Linked DNA regions of Homo sapiens: region 2 is linked to region 1. The links come from fine-mapping of genetic effects on gene expression. Tissue or cell type: whole blood. Region 1 holds a variant in brackets; the other region holds the start of a gene. All regions are shown on one strand. Distances are from middle to middle.

What was found. PIP is the estimated chance that this variant, and not a neighbour inherited with it, causes the effect.
Region 2: it holds the start of NDEL1, and the variant in region 1 is fine-mapped to the expression of NDEL1 in whole blood (TOPMed, PIP above 0.99).

What each region holds. Positions count from the first base shown.
Region 1 is chr17:8,412,904-8,415,588 of GRCh38, forward strand. It overlaps a transcript of NDEL1 not described here. Among named protein-coding and RNA genes, the nearest start is that of RNF222, 16 kb to the left of the region's middle. The variant A/G (reference allele first, on the strand shown) is at 1,531.
Region 2 is chr17:8,434,333-8,437,017 of GRCh38, forward strand. It overlaps NDEL1 (nudE neurodevelopment protein 1 like 1), which reads left to right and starts at 1,552. Exons shown (of 9, transcript NM_030808.5): 1 at 1,552-1,713. RefSeq lists silencers at 1,356-1,525, 1,626-1,825, 1,866-2,105.

The DNA of each region.
Region 1 (2,685 bases):
ATGAAGGCAGGAAAGTGGAGGAGAGAACAGGACATCTGTCTGGAAGACCAGTGGCTTCCAAACTACACATGCAGGGGAGATGGGAAGGCTGAAGGCCTGGCTGAGAACTTGAATTTCTTCTTTCCTTCCCGAAGCACTGAAGTCTTGCTCAACCCCAGCTGAGTGATGAGGCGGGCAGGGTTGCCTCACTTCAGGGCAGCAGGCCCCAGCCTTCCTGGCTCTAATCCATTTCCCATCCTTGCGTATCTTTGGTCGGACGGTGATTCTCACTCTTCCTATTGACTTCTACTTTGTGTCAGCAAGTTCAGCGTGGGCCCCGTATGCTGCCGTGGATCTGATCAGCTGAGGCCTGAGACACAGGACCAGGTACATTGGGAGGAAAGAGCTGATTGGAGAAGGTCTGGGCCACATGAGGGTTTGCCTGAGAGATGCCAGAATGGGGGGCTCCTGATGTCTGAGGACCCTCTGTGCCCATGAGGCAGGCGGATTGTCAAAGGCTGAGGTCCATTTGGAAAGTTGGTTATGTCCCTGTGGCATGAGGGTTGGGTGACATAAAGAGACGGCTTTGGTGGTTTCCTGAAACCATATCATTTGCGCACATCTTCCCCCTGATATTCTGATCACCTTGATTTGGTTTCCTATTTCCTGAACTGCCCACATAGCATTTTTCTGGGTTGCAGAGGGAGTTCATAGGGTTCTGACAGGTTTATCTGGAGCCAACAGAGACAGTCAGTGAGATGCACTGAAGCCATGCTGAGCTGACCAAGTTAGGGGCTTGCGATCATGTCCTGGGACCTTGACTTCACTGCTCATGGGCCATTTGCTTCCCTCTGAACGTGTTTTCTCATCTACAAAATGTAAGACATCTCTATTTTTTTGGATGTTTGTAAACTTAAGCAGAATGATGATTGTGAAGGTGTTTTGTAAACTGTATGATTGTATTCTTCAGGGTTTGGGGTTACTTTTATTTCATTTTGTAAATGGAACTAGATGATTTTTCCTGATAATATAATATCTGATAAAAATTTAATCAGTACAGAGACATTGAAAGTGTTTGCATAATTCTATCTCTAAAGATTAATATTTTGGCATATAGACATCTAGACTTTTAAATGAATATTTTTATGTCAAATTCTACTTACTGTCTTTCAACCTTTTTTTCACTTAATAGTATCTCTTGAGTGTCATCTCTTGTTAATTCATAATTATCTACCTTGTCCTTTTTAACAGCTATGTAGTATTCCATTGTGTGGCTGTACCATGATTTATTAAACCAGTCTCCTATTGGTGGGTGTTTAGGGTGTTTCCAATTTATTTCTATAATAATAAACAGTGCCACAGTAAACATCACTGAATGTACATCTTTGCATACTATTATTTCCTTAGAATAAATCCTTAGATGTTGGATTGCTAGGTGAAAGGTTGTACATATATTTAGTTTTCATTCATTTGTCCAGATTCCCTTAAGAAATGTCGTACCATGGCCGGGCGCGGTGGCTCACGCCTGTAATCCCAGCACTTTGGGAGGCC[A/G]AGGCTGGCGGATCATGAGGTCAGGATATCGAGACCATCCTGGCTAACATGGTGAAACCCCGTCTCTACTAAAAATACAAAAAATTAGCCGGGCGTGGTGTTGGGCACCTGTAGTCCCAGCTACCCGGGAGGCTGAGGCAGGAGAATGGTGTGAACTTGGGAGGCGGAGCTGGCAGTGAGCTGAGATCGCGCCACTGCACTCTAGCCTGGACGACAGAGCGAGACTCCATCTCAAAAAAAAAAAGTGTCATACCATCTTATTTATTTATTTGAGGCCGGGTCTTGCTATGTTGCCCAGCCTGGTGTGAAACACTGGCCTCAAGAGATCCTCCCACCTCAGCCTCCTGAGTAGCTGGGATTACAGGCTTGAGCCACTGTACCTTCATTTGCTTAGTTTTTAGATACATATCACTGATTCCTCTCTAACAGACCTATAAAATTCCTGGCAATATGATCAACACATTAGATTATCTCTCAGTCTCTATTATCTATTAGATTATCTCTCAGTCTCTTTCTCTTATTCCTCAGAGACATCTGCCTGGTGCCTCATCCTACTGCTCCCTCTTGGATTGGTTTCTCCCCAGGACTGCTGAATGTTGTCATCTTAGGAGTTCCCTTTTCTCTTTCTTGTGTGAATCCTCTCTCTTTTGGATACCACCTTCCTTTCTTCCTCCCTCCCTCCCTCCCTCCCTCCTGCCTCTTCTCTCTTTCTGTCTCTCTGTCTCCCTCTCTCCCTCTCTCTTTCTCTCTTTCTTTCTTTTTTGAGATGGGATCTTGCTCTGTTGCCCAGGCTGGAGTGCAGTGGTGCGATCACAGCTTACTACAGTCTTGAATTCCCGGGCTTAAGCCATCCTCCCACCTCAGCCTGCCAAGTAGCTGGGGCCACAGGTGTCTGCCATCATACTTGGCTAATTTTTTGCATTTTTTTAGAGACGAGGTTTTGCCACTTTTTAATTTATATGTATACTTTTTTTTGCCACTTTATAGTTTTAACATTTATTTATTTATTTATTTATTTAGAGATAGGGTCTCACTCTGTTGCCCAGGCTGGAGTGCAGTGGCGCAATCACAGCTCACTGCAGCCTCGACCTCCCTGGGCTCGGGTGATTCTCTTAGCTCAGCCTCCTGAGTAGCTGGGACTACAGGCACGTGCTG
Region 2 (2,685 bases), 21 kb after region 1:
CAGCCTCCGGAGTAGCTAGGATTACAGGTGCCCACCATCATGCCTGGCTAATTTTTGTACTTTTAGTAGAGACAGGGTTTCACCATGTTGGCCAGGCTGGTCTCGAAGTCCTGGCCTCAGGTGATTTGCCCGCCTCGGCTTCCCAAAGTGCTGCAGCGCCTGGCCGAAGTCAGGAGTTCTTGACCAGCCTGGGCAACACAGTAGACCCCATCTCCTAAAGGAAAGGATTACCTTGTACATTATACAGCAAAAGTTCTTAAAATTGTTTTTAAAATGTATCTCTTCCTTTAAGTTTCCACTCCCTATGTAAGTTGCCTATCCCTCTTTCCCTCCTTTTTGGGCTAGTATCGTCTCCAGCTTGCTTCCAAGTCCGCTAGGGAATACACACGCGCGCACACACACATACACGTGTGTGTTTACGTACTAAAAATATATAAACATTAATAATGCAAGATGGGGCCGGGCGCTGTGTCTCACGCCTGTAATCCCAGCACTTTGGGAGGCCGAGGCGGGCGGATCACGAGGTCAGGAGTTCGAGACCAGCCTGGCCAACATGGTGAAACCCCGTCTCTACTAAAAATACAAAAATTAGTCGGGCGTGGTGGCAGGCGCCTGTAATCCCAGCTACTAGGGAGGCTGAGGCAGGAGAATTGCTTAAACCTGGGAGGCGGAGGTTGCAGTGAGCCGAGATCGCGCCACTGCACTCCAGCCTGGGCAACAAGAGCGAAACTCCGTCTCAAAAACAAACAAACAAACAAACAAACAAAAACCAAGATGGATTGTAAGAGGTATATATATACACATAGGACTCCATTTCTTGGGGGACCTGGAGGGGAGAAAGTCACACCCATACACACACGTACACGCATGTATACAAAAATGAATATATGCTCAGATATATACAATATATAAATGGGCAAATATAAAATCCCCTTTGTGCCAACGAATCCATTCATTCATTCATCAAATATTTGAGCGTCCACTTTGCCTAGAACCAAGTTATCTGTTGGGATGAGCAAGGCATAAGAGGTTCTAGCTCTCATAGAACTTAGAATTCTACTGGAGGAAGATGAGAACAAATACAAAATGTAAACAGTGGAAGTTCTGTAAAAACAACACAGAGCTTTGTGAGAGTGATGCTTAGAATGCTCCTGATGTTCCATTGGGTGTTCGAGCAGGGGGAATGGACTCGGAGGTGAACTATGAGCCGAGATTCATTTTATAAACGGGAACACAGACACATGGACACTTGAAGGGCCTTGGTGGCCAGAAAACTGAAGGCAGGTTCCCATCCGTCTTGGCACCACTCTCCCGAATAGCAGTTTCAGGGAACTGCACAAGCCAAAACCAGCCGGTCGCAGAGTCCAGGAGCGCCTGCGCAAGAGGACGCCTGCGCAAGAGGACGCCGTCAGCTTGGCGTCAGCGCGCCGGGCTCTGGCCCGCCCCCTGTGACACCAGCCCCGCCCCACCCCGCCCCGCATACCCGTGCGCTGCCGCGCATGCTCCGAGCCCCGCCCCCGTGCGTCACAGAATGGCCTCGGACACCCAGGCAGTCCCTGACGTGTCGGGGAGGAGCCGGGCGCGGAGGTACGCTGAGTGGAGCTCGGGGCTGCGTAGGGGAGCTGAGCCGAGCGGCTGGGCGGGCCTGGCCGGGCCGGCGGAGGGGAGACGTCGGTTGAGCGGCGGCGAACATGCGCTTTTGACACATTGGAGGTGAGCCTGCAGCGCGGGGCCGCTCCCTAAGGGGCTGCGCTGGGCCGGCGGCGCCGAGGCCTGCCCTTGGGGAGCCTTCCCGGCCCGGGGCCGTGTCTGAGGCTCCGCCGGGGCGGGCCGGGCCGGGTTCCGGGGCGGCCAGCCTGGGGGCAACTGTTCCAACCGCTCTAACTGTCCCCTCCCTTCCCTGGTCCGATGTGTGGCCCCCCAGGGGCGCCTGCAAGGGAACGATTCCGGTGGCCTCCGGAAGATGTGCCCCGTTCCGGGTAGGGTGAGGGCTGGCGGTGACGGAGGCCGGGACGTGGCACCGTGGGCTGGGGCGCTGGCGGCGCAAGGAGTGGCCCAGTCGGAGGTGGCAGCGGCGCGCCCAGCCCGCCTCCTCCTACCCCCTCTTCGAAATTCCTTCATTTGCGAGGGTGGCTTGGAGCGGGGTTGCATTTTGATCTCTCAGTGCCTCTCTCCCATGGGGGGCGAGAGCGCGAGCAGCCCACGTTGGGCTCGGATTGGCATTCTCCTGACTCCCGCCCGGAACTGCTAATCATCCTCCCCCTGGAGTTCGGCAAAGTGTCACCAACGGGCTCGGGTTACTTGTGCTCGACTCTTTTCTTGCTGTAAGCCATGAGATGACCCTTTAAGTTTTGCAAAGGAGGTGAGAGTTCTGTCACCACTGATTATTACCTTCTATTTACGTAGCACCTTTACACGTTTCAGAGCACTCTTCTTCCTATCTTTTTCTAACCGCATCACCTTGTGGTTGCAACTGATTATGTTATCGCCATTTCGATGGGTAAATGGAGCTGGGATGGGGGTAATTATTTATACTTAGGTTCAACCAACTGGTGAGTGGTTTAGCTTGGATCATAATTTACATTTCTAGGCTCGGAGTTCTGGTTTCTTTTCGTGGGATTTTTATACCCTTCTCAGCTACAAAACAAGGCAGAAAATGTGACTTGCCAAAGATATGCCAGAAGC